2 separate regions of the Homo sapiens genome follow, and region 2 is linked to region 1. Evidence: fine-mapped expression QTL. A gene starts in region 1. The other region holds a variant in brackets. All regions are shown on one strand. Distances are between the middles of the regions.

Evidence for each region.
Region 2: its variant is fine-mapped to the expression of RELN in fibroblasts (GTEx, PIP 0.99).

Annotation. Positions count from the first base shown.
Region 1 is chr7:103,982,028-103,998,098 of GRCh38, reverse strand. RELN (reelin) reads left to right here and starts at 8,441. Exons shown (of 65, transcript NM_005045.4): 1 at 8,441-8,968. The coding sequence starts at 8,743. RefSeq lists a cis regulatory region at 1,529-2,124.
Region 2 is chr7:103,709,099-103,725,169 of GRCh38, reverse strand. It overlaps RELN (reelin), which reads left to right. Exons shown (of 65, transcript NM_005045.4): 8 at 1,979-2,030. Among named protein-coding and RNA genes, the nearest start is that of SLC26A5, 270 kb to the right of the region's middle. The variant C/T (reference allele first, on the strand shown) is at 7,304.

The sequences.
Region 1 (16,071 bases):
TGATGGAGGAGTAATCAGAATAGAAAAAGAGGGTGATTTTTAAAAATGTGTTGAAAATATCTTACTTTTCAAATTTAAAAAAATACGGGCCAGGTGTGGTGGCTCACACCTGTAATCCCAGCACTTTGGGAGGATGAAGCGGGTGGATCACGAGGTCAGGAGTTCGAGACCATCCTGACCAACACGGCAAAACCCCGTCTGTATTAAAAATACAAAATTAGCCAGATGTGGTCGCACACGCCTGTAATCCCAGCTACTCAGGAGGCTGAGGCAGGAGAATCGCGTGAACCCAGGAGGCAGAGGTTGCAGTGAGCCGAGATCACACCACTGCACTCCAGCCTGGATGACAGAGTGAGACTCCGTCTCAAAAACAAACAACAAACAAACAAACAAAAAACATGTGAACCCAAGGCTTCTCTCAAGGCCTTAGAAGAGACTCATGAAACTGAAAGGCCCTGTATTTCAGCCTATGGCCCTCATGGGAAGTGGAGGTCCAATTTGATTATTTTTCCTATGAAAAACCAATTGTCTCATCACATTTATTGGAAAGTCAACTTTTTCTTGTTTTGATTTGCAGTGACAGCTGCCATATATTGCATTTCCATGTAATTGGGAACCCACATTCATATGTATGCACTGCACATACTCACTACTCTGGCTTATGCACTGCACATACTCACTACTCTGGATTATGCACTGCACATACTACTCTGGCTTTCCCTTATAGTTGGTCCCTTTAAAAAATTTTCTGGTCTTTTCTTTTTTAATTGATGTCCTTGAGCCATAAAACTTCCTGGTCTTTTAGTGATTTCCGTTTCTTTCTATAAGCCTGATAACACAAGAAGATTATGTTTTATGCTGGATCTACTTGTTTCACAGGAAGAAGGCCTTCCAGAATATCTAATACACTATACTGTCAGAAGCACATACTTCTCTCCTTGGAGTTTTAAATTATAGGTATTATATTTCTTACTTTGAGAATGGCTGGTCATTTTTGATGGTCTCTTATTTTTAGTTCTATTTTTGGAATATTATTTTACTTTTCTAAATGTATTAAATATACATATCTTAAATAACAGAGTTATTCCAACATCTGAAGTCTTTGTGAGTCTGATTGTGGTTACTTCCTGTTTCTACTGACCCACTGTGTTCTGCTTTCTCACAGTATTAGTGATTTTTGATTGTAAACACAACGTTCTGTGAATCTTCATCTGTTGTAGTTCTTTGAAGCCTGACTTAAAGAAATTGTTTTTGTTTTGTTTTTAGGGTCCATGCTAGAGGTGATTTGAATTTGGTTTTGCCAGGTGCCTGGGAACACTTTCAACCCAGAACCGCTTTAAAATTAATTATTAGCTTGAGGTTTTTAAAATCAAACAGAAATGTGAATTTGTGTCACAACCTCCTGAGAGCCAGATTGTGGTTTCAAATTTTAGTGAGAGAATTTCTGATTTTTTTCTAGTTCACCTTTCATTGAGGGCCGAGCTATTTGGGGATGGGTAATAGCTTTATGTATGGATTTTCCGGGACAGTACTTTGCATACTAACTCATAATCCATCACAGACAGATACTTTTGTAAAACTAAGGTCAATATGAATTACTAGGGACATGGAATGCTGCTTGGATACTACTGCTTATACAATAACTATGAAAGTTTTTAAACACTCTCCATTTCTGTACCTATCTCAACGTGTACTGGCAACAGATAGTTTGAAGACTGATCTGCAAACCACACTTTGAGTAGCACTATCCTATCATTCTTCCCACCTTGAGCAGGCCCTAAGCTTTATCTCCGTTCCCAACCCCACATGTCCGTCACAGTGGAAATTCAAGTGTTACTGAAGTGGGCAGATGTCTCAGAGTCCTGGGTGGATTACATACTCCATTCTTTATCTCTGGATTCCTGCTGTCACTTCATTTTTGACCTCTAAGGATTTATCTTTATTTCTCACTAATTCATCAATGTGTTAAAAGGAGTTTCCACCATGATCCAACACTCCCTCTCTTAACTGAAATGTACACACATGTTCACCAAAAGACACGTGCAAGAATATATTAACTGCATATTCATAGTTCCCCTAAACTGAAAATAGCCAAAATTTCCACTAACAAATAAGAAAATTGTGATTTTCCCCCCCATATACTCTACAAGATACAAATGAACAAATTTTTGCAACCTATAGCAACTGGAATAATTCTTATAACCATGATATTGAGCCAAAGAAACCAGATATAAAATCACATATATTGTATGATTCCACTTACATAAAGTTTGGAAACAGGCAAAAATAACCATCCTGAAGACATGTTATGTTTCTCCTTGAAACTTTCTCCATGCCTTGAGGAATATGATTGCTCAATCAAAGTGGTCATGGAGACTTCTGTTTATATTCTTTGGACACTGCTTACATGAGGTGTTCCATTTTTGACACTGCATTGCACACTACACTTATTATTTGTTCATGGTTTTGTGCCTATTACTATACTTCATTAAAAAGTTTACTTAATAAAAAATACTTTTTATCTAATAGTTTATCTAACAGTTTATCTAACAGCAACAATTACCAAGCTGCGAAAGCCTGAAAGTTGTGCATCCTCTTCAACACATCTCTCTCCCTTTATCCCTATGCCCAGTCAGTCACTCTATCTGTTACTCAATCCTGTAGTTCTGGCTCCTCAATACGTCTCAGTTCTACTCTCTTCTCTCCATCTCCTTTGAAGACCATCACCTCTCACCTGAGATACTTGCTCTACATCCTAATTCTCTCCCTGAATCTACTTTTCATGGCTCTCCAATCCACTCTCCCCTTGATCTTCCAAACGTACAAATAGGACCATGGTATGTCTCTGCTTAAAATCCCTTCCATGCTTCACCATTGTTTTCAGGAATAAGAAAAAAGAAAAGAAAATCTTCACTGTAGCACTGTCCATGCTAGTGCCTAGTGAATGTACTTGCTTTACTGTAATACTGTGCTGTAGACAATAACATTAAAATATTGTGTTGGATATTATTTAAACCCTGGAGAAAAAGTATTAGAAAATGTTTCTTCAACTTATTTTGGCATTCTTCAACTCTTTCCTTTAATTATTCATTCAGATCATGTTACTTCCTGACCCAAGTCTCCCCAGCACATTAATGTGATCTAGTCTCTGCCTGCTTCTCTGACCTCATCTCGTACCCATACCACTCTTTCCTTTTCTTTCATTTTACTTACTTTATGACGATGGTGATTTTTTAGAGACAGGGTCTCACTCTGTTGCCCAGGCTGGAATACAGTGATGCAATCATAGTTCACTGCAACCTTGAACTCCTGGGCTCAGGCAATCCTCCTACTTCAGCCTCCCAAGTAGCTGGGACTACAAGCATGCACCCCCATGCCTGGCTAATTTTAAAATCTTTTGTAGAAATAGGGTCTCGCTATGTTTCTCAGGCCAGCCTCAGACTCCTGGCCTCAAGTGATCCTCCTGCCTCAGCCTCCCAAAGTGCTGGGATTACAGGCATGAGCCACTGTGCCCAGCCTCACTCTTCCCTTTTCTTGCTATCTTTCCTAAGCCTTGGACATCTCAAGCATAGCCCTGCTTCAGGGCCTTTATATTATCTGATCTCTCCAGCTGAACTGCTCTTTCCCCCACATGTTAACATGATGGACTCTTCCGTATTAATGAAGTGTTAGCTCCAATTACACTCTTTCAGAGAAGCTTTCCCTGACTCTCCAATCTACAGTAGCCTCCCTGCCCTAGACACTCTCTACCACATCATCTGGTTTTATTTCTTCATAGCATTTACCAGTGTCAGAAATAATCTTGTTTATTGTATGAGTTTACTGTCTGTCCCCAGCACTAGATTGTAGATGCCAAACGGGTGGGCACTGTATTAGCTTTATTCACTGAGTCCACTGCATCCAGCAGTTTGGCACATAGGAGGTGTCTGATAAATACTGATTGAATGAATGTGTTGGTGACTGGGCATTCATTCACATTTTCAATGTAGAACAGTGCTGTCTAATAGGACTTTCTGCAGTAATGGGATAATCTGTAAGTCTGCACTTACTGTCCAGTACAGACAGTGCAGCCTTACAGATTATCCCATTACTAGCCACCCTTAGCTATTGGATACTGGAAATGTGGTTAATGTGACTGAAGAACTTATTTTTAAATTTAATTTGATTTGAATTTAAATAGCTACCTGGGGACTAGGACACTATATCGGATAGTGCTGGTCTAGAGGACATAATTTAGGATGAGGGATCAGGAAAGATCTCTCAGATGCAAAAATGTGTGAGAGAAGACTTGGAGCATGAGTTGCTATAGCCAAGTAAGAAGTGAGGTGAGGGAGAGGAGGGTGGAAGATGTGTGGTTAGGCCACAGGAAACAGGAAGGGCATTCCAGAGAGAAGCAGGGGCAGGGAAAATCCCAGGAAGTGGAGAAACTTTAAAAAAAGGGATTTTTAGTGTTGAGGAATCAGATTCTGTTTCAGAAATCTTACAATATAATGACTTTGTGTTGTCCCATAGTTTATCTCATCATGGTATTTCAATCTGGGGTGGCAATAAGTAACATGTTCCGGCAGGACGTACGTAACAGAGCCAACTCCCTAATATCCCACCTTTCTCAGTGCAATTTCATTTGCAAAAGGCTTACTGATCTTTAGGGTCTATTTTTGTGTGTTTTTTTTTTTGATTTTTGTTTTTTGCTTAGGAGCCTCAATTTTATCATACAGTACCATGTCTTATGAGTAATAGATTTTATAAGTTTATTAGCTGCTATTGGGTTTGCTCTCATGTGGCCTTTTATTACCATTTTAGAGTCTAATAAGTCAACTGATTTCAGTTTGTTCACCCTCTTCATATTTATATTTACATATTTTTTGATTTTATAAACTTTGTTTGATTTTTACATGGTAAATAAGAATAGTGACTCACTTTCCCACATATACCAAAATGTTTAATGCTTCATCTCAAAAAATATCAATGGAAGGCAGATGAGTGAATTCTTGCAACCTTAAAATATAATTTAATGTCTTCTTTGTATTTCATATGGATGAATCACCTCCCAATAATTTAAAAGCTATGTATCTGATATATGTATATATATACATGTATATATAGAGAGATATAGCAGATATATATATATATATATATACACACACATAGCAAATATATATATATATATGAATTTAATTCCCATCGTGTTATGATTATTCAAATACTGGGCAATAATTTCCACTTATCAAGAAGAAGTGGATTTATCTTCTAAGAATACTTAGTTTAATTCTTTTGGTAGACTAATTACTATTTCAAAACTCTTTTAATTAAAAATAAATCTCATTCCATTTTAAACTCCCTTTCCCACAAGCCTATTCATTTTCACCTGACATCACCTTTTATTTTTTGCAGATGTTTTTGATGTAAACCATTTTTTCTGGAAAAGCACTTCTCTATTTTTCTATTAGTTCGGAAGGTTTTTGGATTTTGCAGACCCAATATTCTTGGAGATACTTATTATGGCTCACTAAATAGAAACGAGGTGTAAGGGTTAGCACACGAATTGGGAAACAGGAAGTTTTGCTATCTAACCTGGGTTTCCACCTTATTGCGTGATTTCAAGTAAGTTGCTCACTAAGAAGATGCTACTCTCGGTTCAATGGATTTTATATATGATTTATGTATTTTTCTGATTTTCTAAAGGTTATTTAAAAGTTTTTAATGACTAGTTGAACTGGCCTAATCAAAAAAAGTGTCAGAGATGAAACAAATATGAACTTGAGCCTCTACAAGGTATTCATGTTAGTTCTAAGGACTGCAGACTGGAGTGTACCAACTTTTACTCCCCTCTTGACCAGCTCAACACCACTCAGGACATTATTTAAAAACAGTCTTTGTGTCTGTTACTGAACAACTGCAGGGCTGTAGCCAGAAATATGAGCTTGCTTCATGGCTAACAGTATAAAAGTTATTCAAATGTAATAGCAAAGCAAAGTGGTAAAAATTAAGGAAGCACAATAAAGGGGAAGATTGAAAAATAAACTTGGTCACATAAATTGAATGTTAAGAAAGCCATGTCGAGAGATACGAGAAAGAATATTTCTCTGAGAGTGCACTACACAATGGAAAGAAGGGGACTTCCTGGGAATTGAGGACCTTATATGAATTAAATTCCAATCATGTCCTGGACCAAGTGTCAGCGCTTACTAAAGACAGTTTATTTAAGCAGCGACCTTGGCATCAAGCATGGCCAGACTTGATCCCAAGCTCCTTTAACTTCTATGAATCTCAACTTTCTTCTCTTTAAAAATGAAGATAATTATACCTACTTTGCAGGCTAATATAAGGATTAAATGAGGTATTCTGACACTGGATGAAGAATAATTATTCCCCCATCCCTCTAACAACACCAACATGCATTCTTTAGAGGCGATTTGCAGTGGTTAGTGTGTCAAAATCAGACTGCCTGGGTTCAAGTCACAGCACTCACTAGCTGTGTGACCTTGGACAAGTTACTTAACCTCCCTGTGCTGTTTCATCATAGTAAAATGAAGCTATCAATGGTACTTTTCCCACAGTATTGTTATGAGGAATAAGGGAGTTAGTATGTATAGTACTTAGGACGGTGCTCAGTGCATAGTAACTAAACATTTTAAAAGTGTAAGCCAAAAACATTAAATAGTTTTGGATTCTTTCTACAAGTGATTAATTTTGTCTTTGGCTATATTCACATGACTGGACAGGAAGGCAGTAACAGCCTTGTTAGCTGTGGGCGAGTATCTCCTAATTCTGTTTGGGGCAACACCACCTGCTCCAGCTAGGGCTGTCGACTGTGGCAGGGCAGTGCAGGACAAGAGCCTCTGAGGCCAGCCAGTCTGCCCTGCATCCAGCCTTTGTCACTGACTTTGGGCAAGTTATCAACATTTCTGAGTGCCTCCTCCCTTGTGAAATAGGGATATTTTTTGCCTCTCCAGTTGGTGTTAGGATTAAAAAGCTAAAGTACGTCTAGCCCCACAGCCTGCACCCCGCAGAGCTACAGTGTAGCAATTGTTACCACATCATATATATATATATGCACATACATATATGTATACACTGTATATTATTTATATGGCAGTTAAGCCTCTGGGGATTTTGAAGTAAGGGAAACAAGAAGCCAGCTAGAAATGGGCCCTTTCTACCTGTCATTCGGTCTCAGTAAGAGGAAGAAAAACAATTTCTTCCTTTTGCAACGAAGTGATTACAGAGGTCTCCCCTTGGACCCTGATTTTCACCGCCCCTCGCCCCACAAATGCAGGCAAAGGCACTATCCCTTCCAATTTTATAATCTACTCATTTCTGTACGTGCGGGTTTATCTGGCTTGGTGGCAAGCCAAGGGTGGGTGGGGAGAGGCATTAAAACCTGGCAACCCCGCTCCCCCATCTCCGGATGCCGCAGGGCTCCTGCCAGCCGTCCTCGGTTAAAAACGTGCTTATGGATTATTTCACTTCCCTGCAGTTCATGTGCAGCCGCTCATTACCACCCGCTTCAATCACCGCTGCCAGCATCTCCCCTGAACGTTTTTCCCTCCCCCGATTTCAGGGCCATTGGTCATAACCGACATTTAAAGGAAATAAACACTGATTTAAAAAATTACAACACCCATCTCTGCCTGAAGAGCCCAGAAGCAATGAATAACAGAACAGTCCGGCGAAGAGAGCCTGTCGGATCTTAGCTCCGCCAGCCCTTCCTGCCTTACAATTCCCCACAACCGAGCAGCACAAATCACCATTTCCAGGCACCACTCGAGTCTGCCAATTCCACTTTCGCTTAATCTCATTTTAAAATCCTCTACAGATGAGGCTCTGTCGCTGCCGCGAGGGGCCGGGCGGCCGCGGCGGGAGGGACAGGGGGCCTGGGTGGGAAGGGAGCGCGAGGGCCCCTAGCGGTTCGCGGCCTCGGGCGGATTCCCAGAACGAGTGCGGGCCGCCCGGACTGGCAGACTGCGAGCCCCGAGGGGCGCGGGACGCAGCCGGCTCAGACAAAGAAACCGGCGCCAGCGGCCGTCCCTGCCGCCCCTCTCCTTCCCTCACGCATCCTCCCAGGAAAAACAGGGCACACTGACGGCCAAAGGGGCTGGCCTTCCCCTTCAGACAGCTGGACGGGAGGTGCCCTCTGCGGGGCTTTGACGTCCCTCGCAGAAGAGTCGCGGGCTCAGCGGTCCTCGACAGCGTCCCCGTCCCGCTCCCCGGCGGGCGCCCCTCCCTGTCCTCCCGGGTGCGAACCGGGCGCTGGCCGGGGACTCCGGGGACGCGTGCGCCCCTCGCCGCGCGAGGTGCCGCCGAGCCAGCCCGAGAGGGCGGGGGGCGGGCGGGGCGGCGCGCGGGGGCGGGGGAGCGGCCGGGACACGTGTGGCGGCGGCGGGGGGGACGCGGCGCCCGGGGCTTTAAGAAGGTGTGGAGCGGGGCGGGCGCTTTCCCAGGCCTGGCCGAGGGGCGTCGCGCAGAGGCGGCGGCGGCGCACGGAGGCGGCAGACGACGCGCTCTCGGCGCCCGCAGCCCCGGTCCCGCGCTCCCGCGGCCCAAAGTAACTTTGGGAGCCGCCGTCTCCCGCGGAACTTCTCGGCGGGGGCCCGCTCCCAGGCCCGCTCCCGAGCCCGTTCCGCTCCCGTCCGCCTTCTTCTCGCCTTCTCTCCGCGTGGCTCCTCCGTCCCGGCGTCTCCAAAACTGAATGAGCGAGCGGCGCGTAGGGCGCGCGGCGGCGGCGGCGGCGGCGGCGGCATGGAGCGCAGTGGCTGGGCCCGGCAGACTTTCCTCCTAGCGCTGTTGCTGGGGGCGACGCTGAGGGCGCGCGCGGCGGCTGGCTATTACCCCCGCTTTTCGCCCTTCTTTTTCCTGTGCACCCACCACGGGGAGCTGGAAGGGGATGGGGAGCAGGGCGAGGTGCTCATTTCCCTGCATATTGCGGGCAACCCCACCTACTACGTTCCGGGACAAGAATACCATGGTAGGTACCGCAGCACCTCCGCGCTCGCCGCCGCCGGGTGCGCCCGCCAGCGCACCTTTCTCATCCCTTTCCTTCTTCCAAGGGGCCTTGGAAACAAGAACCATGACAACCCTGGCCCCAGCGATGCGCTTGGTCCAGGGAGCGAGAATAAAGTTAGTGGAGAATGGAGTCACAAGTTGGGATTCATTCTCCATGTCCCCACTCCCCGAACGCATCTCCTGGTAATGAGCTGGTGCTTGTGCTAAACGCCTGAGAATTCTTGGAGGCCGGTGTCTTTCCCCCTCACTCCCCGTACTTACCGCAGGCACTTTAAATTGAACCTGCGCATTTTGTTTCTTTACTCCTAGGACTTGGATTTCAGACCTTTGTCCTGCTCCCGGTCCCCCCAGATGGGTCCCCGGGGGGGCGTTGGGGGCTGTCGCTGGGCTTTGCGGGCAGGCTGGTGACAGATTGAAGCGCCCAGGTCTGTGGCTGCCCCGCGCCGCTCGACCGCAAAGTTCCCGCTGCTCACCAGCCAGGAGTCCCTGGCATTTCATTCAGTGTCATACAGCCCTCCTGAAAGGGAGCGGCTGCTTCCAGCTCCCTATTCTTTTGAAAGTGTGATTTAATATGTCAGTAATTGATGATTTTTCTGATTCCTGCCTTACTTTTACATGGTGCTTCTTGTTAGAATTATCTTTGTGATGTTTATTAATGACTTTGTATTTTATCTGCACAGCTTTAATTTCCAGGTAGAGGCTGGAATCCCTTATAATTTAGAGGTATCTTAAAAATGGAATCATTATGCAGCCCTGCATCAAAAATAAACATTACAGAAGAAATAAAATTTAGCTCCAAGAAATATAATATTATGTAGTACATGTATTTTAAGCTAGTACATCGAGTATGTGGAAAAATAAAAAATGTCTCTTTTCTGTATTTCTTCTGGGACTTCTGAACATTTCATGCCTATAGAGCTTTTAAGCAGCGACAGGCACTATTTAATTAGAATTTCAACCCCAAAATATTTATACCCAACCAAATAGAAACCATTGTCCAGTAGGCTCCTGTTAATAGTTTCTATCTCTAATAGGCTAACAATCATTGGCATGGCGGGAGATAATCTACGGGGTGCTAGCACTTAAGATAGACAAGCATTTAAAAATTGTAAGAATCCTTAAGATTTTTCTGTTTTTAAAAAAACCTTGATATCTATTATAAAATATTTAGCCTAAATAAACGTCTCCTAGAGGTTTTAAACAGTGCTTTTACAACTTCCTTGTGGCATGGTGGCAGCCTTGTCTGTAAAGCAGAAGTTTAATTTGGTGGAATTTTAGAAATAATTTTGGAAAATTAATGTTCTGTAACTAGTCCCTTTTTAGATAAAAGTGCTTACTACGCCCTCTTCCCAAGAACAATCTAGTGCTTTTCTGAGATAATGAGAATCTTTAAGTGGAAGGAGCAGCTACTGTGATGGCAACCAGACCTAACCCAAAGCCTGATTGACAGCCTGCTGCTCCGTGCGACTCTTAGCAAAAGTTCTTGCCCGGTATGATCTCTCAGTGAGAACGGTGGGTAAGTGAGTGAGGCTGGTCTCAAAGGCGTGACTGTCAGGTTATGATGGAAGACCATGTGATGATACAAAGCTTTATTATTATTTTTTCTGTTTTCCACATCCTTTGGAAGGTCTCGATATTGAAAACTTAACTAAAAACACCAAAATATCATACACCCTTTGGTTTTGCTCCCTTGCACCCTTGAATAGCAAATGCAAGTCACCTTAAGACTCACCATAATCACATATCTAAGTCTGAAAAGGAATGGATAACATAGAGTAGAAATAAAGTGTAAATACTTCAAGTTGGACATTGCGGAGGAGAATCTCAATTTCCACCTCTTTTCCACCACCAGAAAAGGTAGAGAAATTGTATTATGTAAGTTATGAAAGGTCAAATTATTATAAGCTTTGAGAATTGTGTCAGATTTTAAATTTCTGTTATCTATTTTATTAAACATTTAGATTTTGGAACTAGCTGTAGCTATAGGCCTTAAAGTAAGAGTTTTTTTTTTTTTTTTTGTAAAATGTTCTACAGGTAGAATACATGTTTAAAAATGAAGTGATGCTTATGTATGTCTCTTTTCCTTTTAGGCTTTTGAAAATTAATTTAAAAAATTCAGACACACACACACACACACACACACACACACACACACACACACAGCTTCTGTTAGAATTGAACTGCCAATAGGAAAACTTAATCTCATGTACTTTTGTGGTTGGCCCATTTTGATATGTGACCAAAATGAAAGGTCTTTTGCCCAAGAAGTCTTCTTAAACTTACAAGAAATGTGTAAAATGTTAGCTTGAGACTTTATTTCTAACCTTCTGGATCTTTAAAGTGTAACAGTTATATCAGAAAAAATCAGTCACATTTATGATTTACATTGAAGTCACCATTTGAATGAACCATGTTTAGGTGTAGAGCTGATAGTTGTGACTTTTTTTTTTTTTTTTTTTTTTTACCTAAAAGAATGCATTGAGATAGAGGTGGTGTGCACAATAGCACCTAACATAGAACATTTCTGTAGATCAGTCAGCTGCCCTCTGACACTGGGGTGTGTGGCAGAGCTCAGAATGTAAAATGGGGCAGCAATTGCCAGTCTAGAATAAAAGTGGTTCACAATTATAGGTCCCTGTATGTGTCGTATTTAAATATATCTATGGAATATCTTTAACAAAAATAAAAAATATATAGTACTAAAAAATCTGGAGCTTTCGAGTCTAACAGAATTGTCACAGATTTTTACATTAAGTAGTATATCCATCTATTTTCAGTACTGGCAACTCTATAAATAGTGCATGGTTACATCTGGTGTGTTCTCATCTCTCAATTAAATGTCATTTGGTATCTCTTTCTCATCTTCATATATCTTTTAAATTATGTTATCTCTGACTCTTTTGAAAGGGCATTATTAGTCACAATGAACCATGAGTATACCACAATGTAGAAGCTCAGCGAAAGGAGGTCTCTATACATCATGTTGAATTAGAAAGGTCTCAGGGTCAGAACATTTTTTTTTTCCTAGAATTTCCTTTTTTTTTGCACAAATCCTAAGACATGGTCAGTTTCCGCAATGTGCGTTTCGGGCACCAAACCTGGAATTTTTTGTTTTGTTTTGTTTTGTGTGGTAGAAAGTTGCAAATGATGGGGAAATAGGAAACAAGAACCTACATGGTTTAGTCAGGTAGCCATTTCTGTTTTCCAGCCATGCCCCGTAATCAGCACACCTTCTCCTAGGGACAAAGGCAGTATTGTGAAAAGTGTGATGGTTGGATTGAAGTCTGCACCTTTCCTCACCCATGGTCGTTCCTTTTCCTCACCCCCAGCCATCAGGTATCTACCATCCATTTTGTTTGCCACTCCTCGCCTTGCCCCCAATCAATTTATGGTGAATGTGACTTGTCAGTGTTAAACTTTCCCACATTTTTTATTGTAATTGTAGAAAGATGTCTTTCCCCTCTTTGCTTAAAGTAAGTTTAGCATCACTGAACAGCCAGATAATAGATATGGGGATAGAAAGACTTGGATGCCCCTGAAATCATGTCAGTAAGGAACTGCCCCTCACAAGGTTGGCTTTATTCAGTCCCCATCAAAAAGGAGAGGTCAGCCATTAGAAGAAGACATTGTGCATGAAAGACAAGCGTTAAGTAAATGAGTCTACCCAAAATACTTGAGCTTTGGTGAGACAATGTACCTAAATTTCTGAATGGACTAGAATTTCTGTTACTATGGTAGCATAAGATGGGGGAAGTGTTCCATTAACAATGAGAAGTATGCTCTAAAATATCAACTGAGAGAAAAAAATTTGGCCTTGAGTAGAATTGAATTGGTGATGTGGCATGATGTTTTAAAAGGGGGATTTTACTGTATTTTGTAAGTCCGGCATCACTATTGGTAATTTTTTCATGCTGTATATCTACTCCCACTTTAAAAAAAAATTATACTGTGAGACAGACAGGAAAATCAATGTTCTATTCCTAAAACTAAACATTTACTTAAAAGAAAGGTATAATCAGGATAGAGTATTGAGGGCACTTTATTTTGACAATTTCCAGTATTACTGTTAAAGGCACACGTGTTCTGAAATTAACTGGTTGCTATTTAAAAATTCTTGTTCAAAGGAAGTGCAATTTAATGACCTTTCAAATACCAGATGATATTTATGTCAGACGTAATTTTTGGAAATATATTCCAGATTTAATTCCTTTCAAAGGAATGATTTTATTATTTGAAATAAAGTAATTTGCCATTACTAAAGTAACTGCATTGCTGATCAGGTGATCGGTTATTTATCCTTCATATGTCTGATTCTGGAATCAGTGTATTTAAACTTTCAAAATCATTTGTCAAATGCAATTTATAAGTGAACTGAAGCTGCGTCCTGCTTATATAGGACTATGAAAATTGGGCATTTTAGAGCATTTTGCTCTATTTGTTACATATTTATCTTACTCTCTACAATTTATTTCATACATATTTTACTGATGTGGTTGAGATTGTTTCTTAAATCATAAATCTTGCTTCCTGTAATTTATATTCACTGTGAGTTTCAATTCCAATTTTAAACTAAAATCAAGTCTTTACAATTATAGTTCAAAATATTTCATTTTGGCAGAAATTCCTACTTCATTCATTCCTACATTACTAGGAGTTATTTAATTATATTTCCTTCCAATTTGTGTGAATCTTTGTTTTAAACTATTAGTTTTATTTGCATTGAAAATGTTAATAAAATGGTAATGTTGTATCGTTGTAATAATATGAATATAGTTTTTACAGAACTGTTTTATTCCAGTAAATTTGACTTTCCATCTTTAAAAAGAGTGATATTTTACCAAGATTTTAAAGTCAGCATTTTTGACTTTCAAATTTTTATGGATTAGTTTTATTCAAAAGAAAATATCTAAAAATCTGTCTTTGATTTTTTTTTTTTTTTACCTCCTGGGAATTGGTCAACTTTATAGAATAAACTAGAAGCCTTACTCCATCAATTATTTAAGATTGGTTGCATATTAAGCCATAATTGTTTTTCTGATCACTTCAAGTGCTAGTTTGAAACTTATGTTATATCTTTAATCTTCATAAATAGTTGCTGATGCAATGACCCCTTTATTTCAAATAACCTTTACATTTGAAAAGCATAAATAAATTGAGTGACCAGTACTTTTTGAACATTTACATTTTAAAAGACATACACACACACACACACACACACACACACACACAGAAATATGAAGTTCTTTGTGTCACATAGAAATAGAAAAACTGGATAGCACTACACTCCGGAAAAAAAGGAAGGTGGAGTGCATTAGGTTGGAATGGGCAGGTTCACTGTGGACAGAGAGAGGTGGTTTAGGCTATGCCTGAGTAATGACTTAATACACGTTAAAAGGCAAATTGACTTATCTAAGTATTTTCATTTCAAAAACATTGGGGTGATTAATCCACCCTCTTTACCTGATTTTAGAGTCATTTTAAAAATAACTGAACTCTATAGCATTTCAGTCTCATCAACTTTAAGCAAAAGCGTTTTAAAAGCCCTATTTCAGATACTCGAATTGAATTTTCAAATATGAATATCTCATAATGACTGTTCAAACGCAGGAATTGTGTAGCTTTAAAAAATTATTGGCTCTTAGGACATTCCGCATGAAATGACATGATCTCACTTTGGTGTCAGTTATGTGGCTCAGAAAGTAATTTTCACCACAGTCACCTGCCATGCCCATCTCATTGAAGGCAGAGCTTCTGAAGGGTTGAATGCTGTGCCTATAGGTTAGCCAATTATTTTTAAAATGTGTGCTTCTCTAAAACTATACCTATTTTTTTCTTTTTTATTCTATCCTCTCTAAGAACCAATTATAGCAAATGTATTTGAGGATGTGTGTGTGGCAGGGGGATCAGTACAAATGTAGAAATGTTGATTTGTGGTATAAGGCAGCCCTAAATCACTCAAAATAAAAAACAAAGCTAAGATAATTAGATAGCATTGAATCCCACTAAGAAATAGTTACAAGCGTTCTGAGTTTTCAAAGTAAATGTTTAAAATGCAGGTTATCCTTTAATGCTGAATTAGCTTTCCTTAACAAAATAAAACTTTATGTTGAAAACAAAATAAAATTTTATTATAGCTAGGCACAGTGGCATATGCTTGTGATCCTAGCTACTTTGGAGACTGAGACAGGAGGATCACTTGAGCCCAGGATTTCAAGACCAGCCTGAGCAACGAAGTGAGACCCAGTTTAAAAAGAAAATTATTGATTAAAATACTCTTACATGATAGGAAAGGTGACATGTTATAGATAGCACCGATTATTGATGTCCACTGGTGCCCACAAACCAAGTGACCTGAAAAGGAGTGACAGTAGACCATAAGGACTAAGGTCACCTTAGTCCTCTCTCTCTGCCTTTCCCATCTCCTTCCCACTGTATCTCATCTTCTCTTCCTCTCTCTAAATTTTATCTTTGTCTTTCCTCCTTTGCTTCCTTTGACTCCATGCCATGGTCCTTGCTTTCCCTCTCCTCTTCCTTTCTCCTTTCTGCTTCACCACTTTGTTCTTTTTCTTTTTAAATTCTTTCACTTTCTTCCCTTCAGGTTTCCCCCATTGCCATCTCTACACCTTTTTTCTCTTCTTACTGATAGTAATATGAAAACAAATCAGTACATTTATTATCAACTATTTAGGTCGGTCATAATTCTTGTATCAAGCTCTGAATTGCTGTGGTCCTCCCATAGAATTTCTTCATATCGCTGAATTACATGGAGCTGCAAGGGAGCCATGGAGGTGAGTATTTTTTAACTGGATGCTGAAGATAGACCCGTGTTCATATCTTGCTCTGCCATTTATTGGCGGTATAATTCAGCGATATGAAGTGAAAATCTGTTGATTAGGGTCTTTGGGAAGGTTCTTTTTATTATTATTATTGAGGCAGAGTCTCAGTGTCGCCCAGGCTGGAGTGCAGTGACACCTTTTCGGCTCACTGTAACCTCCACCTCCTGGGTTCAGGCGATTCTCGTGCCGCAGCCTTCTGAATAGCTGGGACTACAGGTGCACACCACTA
Region 2 (16,071 bases), 270 kb after region 1:
AGTACAGAATGAACAGCTTTGACCTACAGTGATTTCTTCTGATTCATTTAGTTATCATACTAATTTCCTATAGTTTTGAGTGTATTTATAATTTAAGAGAGATTTGGTAAGAAAAAAGTTATGTATCAGCCATTCATAGTTACCATATTATTTATCAAAAGCTCTTTAAGGGCCCCTTTTGTTTTCAGAATGTCAAATATAAAGGCTTAATAACTCATATTTGAACTCAAGATTAATAATTTATATTACCCAATTATAAATATAGGTATAATTTATATTTATTTATAATACTCAAGTATAAATATAGGTGAATAGATCTCAGAATAGATTTCATAGGCAGTGCTTCTTTTTTTTTTTCCTTCATCTTTCCTGTTCTTTCTTGTAGCTGATATTTTACTAATAAAATAAATGGGTAAAGGTAAAGAAATGAGAGTCAACCATTATACCAGTCCTAAACTTCCCTGGTGAAAAAAATTAGAATCAGTAACCAATCAAAGTCTAGGGTCACCCTCAGTTAGCACACATAATTTGAAATTTGGCGATATTCCACACAACTTGCTGTTCGCTAGCAGAGGTCACAGCTGTGGAACTTGATCAAGTAGGTGACACAAGCATCATTTATTACACCATCAGGATAAGTATCTAAGACTCTTCAGTACATTTAATGCACTAGCAGTAGCTTTATAGCCGTGTATTTAAAGCACACGTTCAGTCACCTCTCCAAGTCATGATATAGATATTTTGATATTCACATGTATCTGATCTTTTAATATTCACATCCCAACTGAATTCCGACAGAGCAAGAGGCTTGCTCACTCATTTCCTACAGCTCTTCATGAATTGTATAGCACTTGACCCTTCTGCAATTGTGGACTCTGTCATATAAGGGCTAACAAAGTGCAAGGATATGTCTAAAGATGTTATTAAGACATATAAGAAGCAAAGTGCAACAGAGAGAGAGTCTGTCTCAAAAAAAACAAAACAACGAAAAAAAAAAGCAGCAAAAGTAAGACAACCTACTGCCTCTGCCACAGTGAAGACTTATCCACTTTCTATTGCATACGGTGGAGTAACTGAAATGTCCTATATTGTAGTGTACAGAATTTCAGAACCCAGCAAAATGAGAACCTTAATTTTTGTCTCATTTGAGCTGGTATGGGTCAAAGCTACTGCTCTAAAGGATAAATAAATAAAATTTTAAAATTAAAGAAGCACCATTCTTCTTTCAGAAGGGGGAAATTTTGCTTAAGCATGCTTCTTAAGCATGAAACTAAGGAAAAGTAGCAGAAACTTGTCAGAAGACTATTTCTAGGTTCATAATTCTATTTCTTTTCTTCATTTTTTTTGGTAACAGTTTTATTGAGAAATAATCCACAGATTCTACCTTCTTTAAAGTGTACAGTTCAAGGCTTCTGGTTTATTTACAAAGTTATGGAACCATTATTACAGTCAATTTTAGACCATTTCATCACACCCCTCCACAAAGAAAGCCTATGACCTTTAGCTATTGTAGTTCTATTTCCTTTTCAAAATAATTTTATTCTACTCATTTGTTCTTAGTTTATCTCCCAATTTTTGTTCGGTAGCCCTTTTGCTACATTCTCTTTGGGTCCCCGATCTATTGATCTGGTAGGATGGAAGGGAGATGGTGGAATGAGTGGAGAGGAGCTTTGTTAAATGCCTTCACAAGATAACCTGCTGGATTCCACTAAGAACAGTTTGTGAAAGGACATTGAGAAATATGCTATCCGTCTCCAAGTCAGGATTTCACTTCTTTATTCCCCACAGGGGAAGAAGAAACAGGTCTGTGTTCAGACACATTGATAAAATGAACTAACAACTGGATAAATGCAACTTCTGTTAATGGATTTCCTCTCTCCTCTTTTTTAACTCTTCCCCTCCCCGTACCCCTCCCAGCATCTTTCTCCTCTTTCTCCTCTCTGTCTTGTCTTATTTTTATGTATTCTTTTTTCTTTAGATTACCACAGGCCTTAATACAACAACAGCTTCTGTCCTCCAATTTTCCATTGGTAAGTGTTTTTTAGCAGTTATAACGATTTAATTTGGAAATGTTTGCTTTAAACATAGTGTGCAATCAGGATTATAATGCCAGATGCTTTTGGATTTACAGAATAGTAAGTCTTAATTTTGCAGTAAATAATCTACAACATTTTTAAAGTGAAATAAATATTTTTAAATGTTACATTCTGTTCTCACTTCTCTCCAGCAGTGAATGGTATTAAAAATACTGCAGATAATTCAAAAAAATCTTAAGATGATTTACATATGTATTTTGCATACATTGGCTTATTCTATTACAGCAGGATTACCTTGCTGGTTGTGTTTTGCTCAGATTAAGATTGAAATATGTTCCATTTCCTGAGCTCTGACTAACTGGTAGTGAGAAAGATAATTACTGGTAACCGAAAGAAACCAATTAAGGCTTTATGTTTGGCATAAATAATCTATGTTAAATTCAAACATAGATAATGAAAACAATGACCATATCTGGCAGTGTTTCCTTTAAGTGCTTTTGTTTTAGAGCTAAAAGTTCCTACCCAAAGCATTCAGTAAAATAAGGTGCCTTCTGATCAGGTGTTTGCAGTTCTGCTGTCTATTCTATTACCTTCCATTTTATTTTTCAAGGGTATGTATTTATAAATAACTTGTATAAATTTACAGAGGAAATGTTCTAGGGGAAGAAACATGTTGTCTTTTAATGGGGCCTAGGTCCCATTAGAGCGAAACCCCCTCCTGACCATTTCCTATGGCATGAGAATTGCAGGTGTCCCCCAGCCATGCTCAGAACAGCATCCTCCAGTCGCTTCCATATCTTAGAAGGTCTGCCGTTAGCAAAAGGACTGTTTCTCTCAGGATTCTTCTATTCCAAATTGCAAGTCAGTGTTCTACAGCCAGGAGCCCACTGTGGTTGATTGTGCTGAAGAACAGTTTTCTTTAAGTCATGTATTTGTCACTTTTTCATCACTGTGCCTTGTTTCAGCCTGTGTAGGAGGTACTATGTGAAGTCACCTGATTACATTTTGGGTTATTTTCTTCTCCAGTTGACAGTATTACCTACAACAATTTACAGACAGTTCAGAAGTCCATGTGTGATCATAAGTAAAGTGTTAGAAAAAACAAAAATAATGGTTTTTTTGATGAAAGAGTTTTCTTTGACTTATTAACAAGTGTATCCTGTTCTGTAGCAAACACGTAATGTTTTTATAATCAAAAAAAGTTTTATTTTTAAAGAGTTGTGGTGCTACAAAAACAAATTTTTTTAACTGTAGCGTGACAGGCAACTTAGAGCCTCTTAATCACAATAAACGTGTTTAATTATGCTATTAATATATAACATAAGCTGAATAATGGTTAATAATGTATCAGTATTCTGAGTACTTGTTCTTTTTGTTAGAGAGATGAACATTAGTTTCAGATATTGTCTTTAAGCAATTAAAGAACACAAGAGAATCAATTTTAAAATATATGTCTCCTAATTCTAATATTATTTGTACTTTATTCAAGGGTGGAGAGCTCCTACACCAATTAAATTATCCTTTATTACAGGGAAAAATTACTATTTTGGTGAATAGTATACTGCTAATATGGCATAGATTCTCTATTTCCTTGCCTTTCATTTGTACCAATTACAACAGACTTGATGAAAAAGTACCAAGAAGAGGAGGTAATCAGAGAATGAAGGGTTTATTACCTAAGACTCAAAACCCATAGCAAGCACCAGGGCCAAGGTCTCGGGACTAGACATAAACATGGGACTTAGCAAGAGCCCTTGGTCTCCCCACAAGCCTGAGGACTGTAGCCATCAGGCCAACTTATATTATTTAAAGCACGGATTTGAATCCTGCTGGAAGACTGGAAGAGTAACAGAATTGGGGAAAGAGAGAGAGAGAGAGAGAGAGATGGCAAGGAGAAAATGAAGGAAGGGTGGAAGGAGGAAGGAAAGAGGGAGGAAGGAAATGAGAAAAAGAGATCTCAAGTTTATAACTAAAAATACATTTATAAATCTTTTCAGGTGGCAGTTTTAGAACCAGAAGTGAAATTTTAACATATCCTTAGGAATGAAATGGAACAATTTAGTAAAAGAAATTGTAATTTATTGTTTATAAACTTCATTGGTGAATTTACTTACTACACTTTGAGAGTAAAAAATTGGGGGAAACCAAGAAGAGTTAGAATGGCAAAGAAACAATGTAGTAGCAAACCATCTGTTGTATGGTGTGTGGTGGTATGTGGTGAATACCGTATAGCGGGCAGAACTTTCCAGAAATGTTTTGTGTATCTCATTATCATTTGTTTATATGGATGTTTACGAGGTATAAGGGTGTGACATCATTCTGTTTATTTGGGTGATATGAGGGCCAGACTGAGGAACACTCACAAATTCTAGAAATGCCATAATTGTGGGTATCCATAGTAATCAGATACCAAAATAGCAAATTAAAATGAATCCAACCAATCCAATAGCAGCCATAATAGCCATTTTATTTATACTCAGTTCAAAAATTATATTAAGATTATGTTATAAAAAACTATATGTTAACAATTCAACATTTACATTTCCTTGTGTACTGTGGAATTCTCCAAATCTATACTAATAATAATATGTCCAGTTAGTTTTAGTGTCACTCCTTAGGAAGTCCTTTAGGATATTAAATGTTAAATGTTCACTGTATAACACAATGATTCAAGCAGTTTTCTAGGGAATTCTATTATTATAACCTAAGTGGTCAATTATGTTCATAATTGGGCATGTATAACCACAATTGGAGAAATTATTGTGTTGATACTTTCATATTGCTCTTGTAAACATTTTCAGTTGCATAACAAATGTTATCCAAAAGACTCCCAAGTTCCTCATACAAAAATTGCTTGAATTACTAAGGGGTGTCTCAAATAAATTCCATATGCCAATGTTTAGCAGCAATACTCTCTCAGTTCTTTCAAATACACACACACACACACACACACACACACAATGTTTATACAATATATACATATATTACATTATATATGTATACATACATGTGTGTATCTGATGTGTTTATATAATTATATATATTATACATGTGTATATAGATTATGTACTTGTGTATATATACATATACACACACATACATATATATACATAAATGTAAGGCTGTCTTAACCAATGATTTTTAAAGTCAAAGAATCCTGAAAATGCAGTTCTGCAAGATGAAATTTATCATGTTATCCACAGCTAAATCATCTTGGAAAGTGTCCTAAAATATTCGTAGAAGAACTTTTCATTTTTCCATTCCAGTGAAAGATCTCTTATCCATTTCTGTGCTGAGACATCGATTTGCTACCATCCTCACTTGATTCATTAGACGCAACTTATGGAATTTATGGTAGTAGCCTTAGGGGCATTTGCCCACTTCCTTTAGATTTCCTCTGGGATAGGAAGAAAAATTTGAGATGACATCCTTGCAAAGTGTTATCCTACAGATGCCTCCGAACTCTACTTTCTCAGGCAGGGTTGAGGACCCAAAGGAAATGGCGGTAGTACCTTGTGTCTACCACACAGTCTTAACAAAATTTCACTGAATATTTGTTGTGTGCTCAGTATTTGCTTGAGCTGGCTTCAACTGGGAAAACAAAATAAGTGAGAAAACAGAACGTTTTTACAGCACTTAACAATGTAGTAGAAGGCACTGGGTACATAGAGAGCATGAAATCTCTAGAAAACGGCATTGTTGTAAACAGGGTGGGTCTGTGTATATGTCCCCAGGGTGGCAGTGCCTAATGAGGTTCTTGAGGAAGGCTTCTTAGGAAGGAGAATCCCTGCCAACAACCCAAGTCACTTGAAAGGACAGGGAAAGGTTTTTCAAGTGAAGAGGCAGAGTGAATACAGGCAAGACATTGGAGGGGAACATGCGTGCCCTCCTAGAGCAGAGGAACTGGGCCTGGTAGCTATGAGCAATGTCAGATAAAGTTGCATCTATCTGAAGACTAATCTGTATCAGCTCAGGGCTTCAACTTACTTAATAGAGGGATAAATGTTAAATGGAGGTTTTAAACTCATTTAATTTAACTTTTTAAAAGTAAAATAATGTTGTTCTTTAGTTATTTAATAGAGGTCTGCAAAAGAACCTCTTTCTCTCTTGAGCAATAGAGAAATAGAATGAAATTAATTCTTCAGAAAAATTGTTTGGGTAGTTGTGTTAGGGGTTCTTTGTCACTTCCTTGATAGAGATCTGCATTGAGTCACTCTAAAAGAATTTACCAAGTAATATACTTGTTCAATTTAGCTTACCTCTTACATCAGATTAATAGGATTCATTAGCCAAACAAGGAATAAAGGTAAAGCATTTAAAAACACACCATGAAGAATAAATAGTTTGGCTTGCCAGACAAATCTATCTTGTCCATCACAGTATCCTCAGTCACTAGCCCAGGGACTCATAATAAATAGATGCTCATAAATATTGCTTCCCTGAGTGACAAGTAACCATTACAAAGACATCTATAATAGTATGTTACCAAGTGTTAAACTGATGTGATGCAGACATTTCATGGCAAGAGGGGGCTTGGGGGAGGTGATCTGAGGACCACAGTCAATGGAAATGATTACCCAGAAAGAAACAGAATCACCAGTAAACTATACTTTAAGTGAAACAAGTAGACAGAAATACATATGCAAGTGTTTATCAGTACGTAATTACTGAGCTAACTAGAATCTATTATTTGTTCATGATTTATAGAATTAGTACCTTTTCTCTTGAGTTTTACTTACAGATGTCCTAAACATTCGGGTTTTATTTTTGTACGTGTGTTTAATTTTTTTTTTTTTTTTTTGCTGCTTTGTTTTTGTTTTTATCATTTCAAGACAGAAGGAAGTCATTAAATCATAAATGCTTTATATTTACTTATTAAGATACACAGATGTTCTTAGGCTTGAATTATTGTCCTTCTGTACTGTACATGCTACGGAGTCTCAGAGATGAATGAGAGCCACTCTGTTTACACGAGTGTATTTTGAAAAATAAAAACTGGAAATTACAAAAGCTAAAAATACTCTTAGCTGAATTGGAATATTGCTTTGTGAAAGAAAAGAGATCTGGTATTATTTTTTCTTTAATAGATGTAAAGGATAAAATGTCACTTGTAAAAGGTATTCTATTTCATTTAGCATAAGAAAAGCAGTTGATTTTTCCCTTGAGCCTAATTCATAAACATCTTAATTACTCAGAACTTGATTCAGTAGAGAAATTCTCTCTCAACTCTTTTAGAACAGGTAGTTCAAGAGGAGGAGAAATCGATT[C/T]CTCCATATCTTGGTATGAATTGTTGCTCATTTCCTCCACGAACTTACTGAAATATATTTAAAATTAGATTCTCATTTTTTTTTCCAGAATCACTCTCCCTGGTGAGTAAGACCTTGGGGAACTTATTATGAAATAGTGAACACCTCTTCTGAAACATGGACACCTCTAAGTATAAGACTAACAAAATATTTGGTGACCTAAGCCCAAAACAAAAATAAATGAAACATTAGAAAATTTTAATGGCAAAAATAATACATATGTTTTATAAGGTTAAATACGTGTTTTATTTAAGGGTAAGATTCTTGGATATAAATGTATTCAACTAAGATTTAAGACTTAATTTCCAGATCTTCAAATATCTATATTAAAACAAATTTTTTTTTTTGTTTTATATATGGAATACCTCTATGTTAACTAAAATTTGGTAAGTAAAGGTGTGAAACTGATTATGATGCAGGGTATCCTGCTTTGTCATCCCAGAGATGACCTTTTTAGGGAATGTTTATTTTTTTAAATGAGTTTAAATGAAATATATATATATAAAACATATGTATATTTATCTATAATATTTATAAATATATATTTATCTCAAATCCACCTCACCCCAAATTCTTAAGCCCTAGCTTAAGTAATAAAAGAGAATATTCTGAAATCCTGTAAAATACCACTAAACCCAAAATTCTGGCAAAGATTGTTGAGATTGATTATAAGTGTTTTTTAATTATTAGAACTGATAATTAAATATTTTTATATGAATTAAAATGCGCAATTTGACACAGGTATTATCCCCTTTCTCTTTTGAGATATTCAATTTGTCACTCATCTAATGAGGCTTAGAAAAATGTCAGTAATTCATTCATAAATTCGTGCTATTAACATTTTGGGGGGACTGTACTAGTAGAAGGAATACAGCAGTGAACTACAGGATGAGAAGAAATTCATTATTGATGTAGACCAAATGGTCTCTCAAACACCACTCCTCCATGAAAACTCATCCCGTTGCCCCAGACTGATATCTCTGAAACCCCACTTGCTCTGAATTTATTTTATGACAGGTACTTCACTCTGCTTTGATAGATACACTGACCATTTCTGCACATTCACTTTCACCTTTTCTAACTTAAATATTCCTTGAGGGCTAAGGAACTTACAAGTGTCCCTTTCTGTATATAAGACAGAATTTGGCACACACCTAGAACTAAAAACAATGTAACTAAATTGAATTCCTAGGTTAGGTTAGGGATTTCATACTGTTCCACATTGGTGCTGAATACTATCTGCATTCTTGACTTCTGAAGCAAGGGAGTATGCTAAATGAAATCCATGGGCATTGTTAGAATTTAGTCTGAGCCTGCAGTTTCCAGTTTCTTGTCAATTAACCAGGGACTCATCTGTCAAAGAGAAGATCTTTAAGCTCTTTAGAATATTTATTATATGTATCATAATGTGCTTACGTTCCCTGTAGAGAAAGCAAAGCCTAAGACGCTGCCCCAATCTTTGAGAAGTTCATTATCAAATAGAGGGGAGGAGGTGGGGAGAGAGTCCACGTGGGAGAAGAAAACAAGTATGGCAGTAAACATTGCTGATTAACAGATGCAGACTACAGAGGAGAATGAGAGTTTAATTTGTTAGAAAGTCCAGGAAAGAGGGAGGGCTGGAGGGAGGACTTCATTATTTGGGAAAGAGATTGACAAGAGCAGGCATGGTACCACCAGAGGGTCAGGCGTCACTGTGAAGGTTACGGGAATGGCACCCTGTAGGAAGAACAAGATGCAGGAGCCCTGCTAAGAACTGGGGACCAAGGTCAGAGCCAGACAGCAACAATGATACTAATGCTGTCTCCAGATTGCCATGAGTGGTGGAGGGGAGACAGTTAACACTTGCTGCCCGGGATGGGGATTAGTCCTCCTAGAAAATGGGCCAGGCATGAGCATTCGGGTGTAGTTTACATGGGCCCTGGGGAAAGGAGGACGGCCTGGCAGGGAACCTGGCAAAGCCAGACACATTTCTCTTCCTTGTGTTTCATGCAACATGGCAATGAAACTACTGTGGGCTTGGGAGAAAACCTGCAGGGGGTGGGCACTTGGAAGTGGTTGGAATGTGGCTTGGCCTTCCATAAATTGGGAGAGAATGGATCCCTCTCTCCATTATGGTAGGAGTACCAGTGACAATGAAGAAATACAAATATTTTGGAAGTGAGGGAAGAGGGATAGGACTGGAAGGGAGAAAGGCACAAGCAGGGAGGAGGACAGCTGTTCATTTTATATCCTGTGGTCATTGTCCATCTGCCATGAACTGGAAGAAGTCCCCTAATGAGGTTTGGGAAATTCAGCCAGGAAAGTGACTGAGGGACAAAATATTAAGTACAATAAATCACGCACTGTCACATTTAGCCAGAAAGAAAGGTTTGTAAGTCTGATAGTCAAAACAGAGATTATTACTAGTAGCCTCAGTTTAAACATAAATATAAAACAGAAAGTGGAAGACAGTTGCTTTTAGAACCTGGTTCTTTTTCTATATATTATGAAAAAAAGTATTTCAAGTATAAAGGAAGCATGTTTTTAGTTCAAGTACAGAATATTTTTGAAGATTTTTATTGATTTTATTTTTCTACTTTATTTGACCTCTCTTAATCCTTAATATCCATTTTTAGTAGATGCTTAGAATGAAAATTTTGCTTGCATATTATGTTCCCCCATACAGCATTGTCCTTGAAATATGTTTTCTCGTTAATAAACGCTAAATTCCCCCATGGGTATTTTTTGGTGGGCAAAACAGAGGTATAGACATAAAGTCTAGACTTCCCTATCCAAATAATTGTTTAATTGATAATTTGGGCTGACCAAAAACTTTGGACATATTCATTTCTCTCAATTTACAATTTCTATTCATAAAATAATGAATTATCTTAACTTTGGTGACCATATTTTACCAAAATTAAATTTGTTTGCTCTGTCAAGAACAGTTCTTGACAGATCCAAGAGTAATTAGAGGATTTCTGTTCATGCAGAATGGAACTGTTCTTAATTAAAGTAATATCTGTGGGCTCCTTTCAGTCACAATTGCCATCCCTGTCACTTGGGACTGAGAAGCCCCAGGACACTTCCCTCCTGGGCTGCCACAAAGCATTATCCGATACAGTAACCATTTTTTCCTGCTCTGCTTCTTACCCTTGAATCAAACTGCTGCTGTTTTGGCTACGGCCCCTGAACTTCGACAAAGCATGAGCTGCCTCTATGTGCAGGCATAGGCGAGGCAAATCAAGCCTGTATTTCATGAGAGCCAGAAGCTGCTCTGCATGGTGGGATGTGCACACACTGTCAGACGTCAGGGACAGCAGCGGAGAGCATACCAACCAGGCAGACCGTTGACTCAACCGCATTCCCTATGTAGCCATTCCTCATGCATTTATTTTACCCGTGATCAGAGAATTGGTAAAATAGCACACTTAGGACCAAATTCTCATCTTCCCAGTAGATTTTCCCTCTTGTCTTGAACTCTGTATTCCAAAGTACCCTGTGGATATATGATGTACAGTAAGGTAATAAGAGTAATAAAAACAAGTTGCTTTGAATATTATCAAGCAAGAAGCTAGCTACTAGAAAATAACCAATTATACTTTTATAAAATTTAAACATTAATGGAACAAATTTATATAGGTAGTCATGTTATTAAATAAAATGCTCAGATACATAAAATGTTATATAGCATAGGTTTTTGTACTAGGAGAGGAATAAAACAGCATGAAAACAAAACAAAAAACATATTAAACCAGCCATCCTGGAAATTACAGCATTATATGCCTAAGACTGGGAGTCATATTTTAGATACTGTTCATGAGTTAGTATTCCTAGACTTGCCATGTCATCAAGATGTTGCTCTACTTAACAGTAGATCATTTTGATGCCGTGGGTCAAGAGAGCTAATACTTTTAGGGATTTTCTGGCATGTGGTAAAGAAGGAAATAAAAATCTAAGTATGATATAATCATTTTTCTACAGTGCTGTTCATAGAACTATCAAACTATTGGTAATCTGGATAATAATGGTCTTATCTGAGACAGAATTATTTGAAAAAGAATTGCAAAGTAGCAAAGAAGATTTTACTGTGTTTCTTAATTTTGGGGAGGTAGAGTAAGAGTATTTTCTCCCTAGTGAATAATACTGACCTCAAAATTCACTCTTACCTTCAAAAAAAAAAAAAAAGGATAAATGCCAGAACTGCTTATTATACCAATATCTTCATGTTGCTCATCACATTTTTCACATTTCAGTGTAGAATGAGGCAAGCCTGTTTCTTGAATGCTCCTGAATGCCCTAGCCTAGAGTAACATGTAATATCCCCTGAGAGTAACAGCTTCTAGCTTTTTAAAAGCTCCCTAAAATTTGTCCATTCATCTCTATCTCTCTTTCCACTCACTGCAACCTCAAGTTAATGGTCCTGTTCTCCATTAATCTATCTAGAAAAGATGAAAGAATGGGCTGATCCTGCTAAGAGTTGCTCTAGTTTGTAGCAGGGAGTTCTGAGTAGCCAGAATGCATCCATTCTATAACTTTATGATCTTTCTATACCAAATGCTGTTGTTTACATGCAGCTCCTAGAGCTGTGCTCGTCTCTGAGGTCTGAGTTTTGAGTAATGGCAGTGGCAGCACTCGCGCTGCAGGAATCCTCAATAAGGTTCTGTCCAGACACTCCTCAAGCCTTCAGTATTTATGGGTCCCACTATGCTATCTAGAGGCGTGATTTCTGGCAGTGATTTTCCCCATCTATAAATTCTGTGAGATCAATTCTCTCCTTCTGTGGCCCTGTGCTGCATTTGAAAAGGCAGCTCATTTTTAAGGCAGAGCTTTGGGGAAAGAGGCTGCTCCCAGCAACCACTACCAATCCCCAAGATAACAGTAGCTTCTTCTATTGCATTCTACTGTGATTTACTTTGAAAAGTCCTGGGATTGATGGGGAATGATATAACCAAATAAAAAAAAAACTACCCAAAACTACCCAGGACTTGAGAGACTAAACACCAATTGATTGATCCTTGTATAAAAGTAAAACAAAATAGATGAAATTCTTGAAGATACAGACTCACAATCCCTAATCTGTAATTTCATATTACAAAAAACATGGAGATATCACAAGCCAGTTTTTATAAAATGTATGTGGTGGCAAAGTTTGACATGAGCTGAATTCATTTGGCAGCAAGACCTGAGTTGAAAGGATTTGAAGCTATTTATGATCATTATTTCTGTTACTTATGTGAATTATCATGCATTTCACTGCAGAAGTATTAATGTGTTGGATTATAGAGTGCTGCTCTAGGCATGGCATATGCACCATATTACCTTTTGGAAATCTATAAGTTAATTAAGTTATTTGAATTATAGAATTCATCTAACCTCAAGGGATTATGGACCTATATGGCTGTTATTCCAAGGGAGGAAGTAACTCTTTAATTTTCAGTAGGATTACTAATATTTGTATTTTTAAGTGGCTTTGATTTTATATCAAATCACGCTATTCTTTATACTGTTTGTTATGCCAACTACTCAAGAGGGATGGAAAGAACAGACAAAGTTTATTTGTGAATTTCAGAAACTTCCTGGCTCTGTATGCATTACATGTATATTACGGTAAATAGGCTACTGCACAATGAGCAGAATTTTGATATACTTAATATGGATTGCATTTGATTAATGTATAATTGCTGCAGGTTCGTGTGCTTGTGTATTCTTGAGATTATAAAGTCTAAAAGCTCTTTAGGATTCTCCAGGCCGGCATAGCACAGAAACATTCCAGTTAGCAAGCCTTGGAAGTTTCTGGTTCTCTCTGGCTTGAGTCCCTGAGGTTTAATGAGGTCTATGAGGGTCAATGTAGGCTTCATTTTGACAACACAGTCAAAAATGAATAGCAGGTCAGCTGTGGTGGCTCACACCTGTAATCCCAGCATTTTGAGAGGCCAAGGCAGGTGGATCACTTGAGCCCAGGAGTTTGAGACGATCCTGGGCAACATGGTGAAACCCTGTCTCTACAAAAAATACAAAAAAATTAGCCAGGTTTGGTGGCGGGTGCCTGCAATCCCAGCTACTTGGGAGGCTGAGGCGAGAGGATTCCTTGAGCCCAGGAGGTTGAGCCTGCAGTGAGCTGTGATCATACCACTGCACTCCAGCCTGGGCAACAGAGCAATACCCTGCCTTTAAAAAAATAGCTTTTTTGTGTGTGTAAATATAGCTTAAAAGTCATTTCATCGATTCTAATCTAGTTGTACTGTGATTCATTTCCATATATAAATATTTTAATTGAGTCAAACCTGCCTTAAGAGAAGAAAAGAATTTCAAAAATTTCAAAGTCTTATTCTCTCTTTATTCTTGTCCTGTCATTAAATACATTTGATTGTGCCGTGCTAAGCAAAGTGGAAAATGAATTTTGTATTCTGGATTCCCTTGCTCTGGGACCTGTGATTTAAGACATTTTTGAAATGTAGGAATGTAGTGCAGTGCAAGCTCTGTACAGAGGTGGGTCTGAGTTGTGTGGGTCCACCTTTGAAGCTTATACCACTTGGGTGAGGGTTAGGGTCTCTCTCTAAGGAAAAAACATACAAAGTTACACATTCCAAATTAGGTACAAATGTGAAAATTTATTTAGAATGCAAAAAGAAATAAAAACAAATTACAAATTGTTCAAAATTGACTGTACCACAAACATCACAAAATCAAGAAATACAACATTTTTGTTAACTCCCTGAAATGTTCTATAGTACTTTTTTCCTTATATCTTTTTGGCTGTGTACTCTTTCTATTTATTTATTTATTTAAAAAAATTTTTTTTTGAGACGGAGTCTCGCTCTGTTGCCAGGCTGGAGTACAGTGGCGTGCTCTCGGCTCACTGCAACCTTTGCCTCCTGGGTTCAAGCGATTCTCCTGCCTCAGCCTCCTGAGTAGCTGGGACTATAGGCATGGGCCACCACACCCAGCTAATTTTTTTATTTTTAGTTGAGACGGGGTTTCACCATGTTGGCCAGGATGGTCTCAATTTCTTGACATCGTGATCCACCAACCTCAGCCTCCCAAAGTGCTGGGATTACAGGCATGAGCCACCACGCCCGGCTGGCCATGTACTCTCAAATCACCTTTCCTGTGACAACAATTCTGTAATATTTTCTGGAAATAATAGAAAGGGTATTCTGCCTCTAGCTTGTTAGATCAGAGTTGATGCTTAATATTTGCCTTTGCAACTCCTTATTGATCATGTCATTTAGATTTTTAGAATCACTATAGAATTGGAAAACCTCTCTCTTATTTATATTTGAGGACATTTCAACTTCCCTTGTATAGTGACTAATCTTAGCTGATCTCTGAATTGACATCACTCATTAAATAGTGTATCATCATTATCTTTTAGTCATGATGCTGGATGCATCAGCACTGTGGGTGTAGGAGTTCCTGGAAGCTGTTTTTATATTGAGAATGACTAGACTACAAAATGGAAAGTAAACTACGTAGCTGTATCACACTAACCCAAAATAAATGTATTTCCAACTCAGCTTCTTCTTAGCAGAATCCCAAAAGCAGTTAGGTCCACTCTGACACCTCCTGACATGAGGGGCAACGTGATGAAGGAGTAGTCCAAATGGAGACAGGATCTTAACCAACTGCAAGTGTTATAAAATATGGCCATCAGACTATATTGCTAGAGCCTCTCCCAGGACCTTAGACAGTGCTAACCAAAGTGAGGGCCATGAAGCCGAAGCTTCATCAGCTTCATGGTAAATCCTCTTCTGTCTATGACAAACATGTTGGAATTGAACATTACACTTAGATTTGTTACATTGATAAATATACGTTCACATTCTGACATTTGTCTTATTGACACTTCCTTCTTTCTTATCCCCCTGCAAGTTGCCTCAACTTTCCCTTTCAAATTCTGATTACATCTTATCTTCCCTTTATTTGATGTTCTATTGCTTTTGCCTTGTCTTATAGGGACCATAGAGATTTCTATATACTGCTATAGCTACTGTTCTGATTCTCAATAAGAAATAATCATTAATGCAAAACAATATTTTTTATTTAATGTAGATATTTTAAGCCATGGATTTATTTTTTTATATTTGGAATATTCTACAGCATATGCACATCAGTTTATGACTCATATATACTGACAAACAACTTTTACTGTTGGTATAAATGGGCAGAGGGAAAAGAGCACTGATTTGGGAGTCAAGTCATATAGTCCTTTCTCTGCCAGTTGAACTCCCCACATAACCATGGGTAGTAGTAGAGGCTGCCTGGGCCCTTCACAAGTAAGCATGTTCATCTTTGTGATCTCTTAAATGTCTTACCACTGTGGTCCTAAGTCCTAGAACTGGGTAACAACAATGAACCATGAGTTAAGCAGGAATTTAGTTTGGCTAAAAACATGGTTATTATGTTTTCTGTTTCAGTTAAGGCAGCCCTTACAAGAAATATTAAAGCAGTCGCCATATCTTTAACCAATTGTAATTTATACTTGTAGCTTATTTTGTCACCAGGGAAAGATATTAAACAGAGGAACAGAAATGTAGCATTGGCAGAACCATGTGATGTTGTTACCCAGATAATACTTGGTGCCACCCTGAGATGCTGTCCTTCTGGCTCTTCCTAGAAGAGCATCAGTGTGTATAATAGTGGACAGGGGCTATAAATCACCCCATCTCCCTATCCTGCTGAAAATAGATACTACAGAAAAGCTAATAATAATAATAGTATTATTGTATTTCCAAAAGACACTCTTC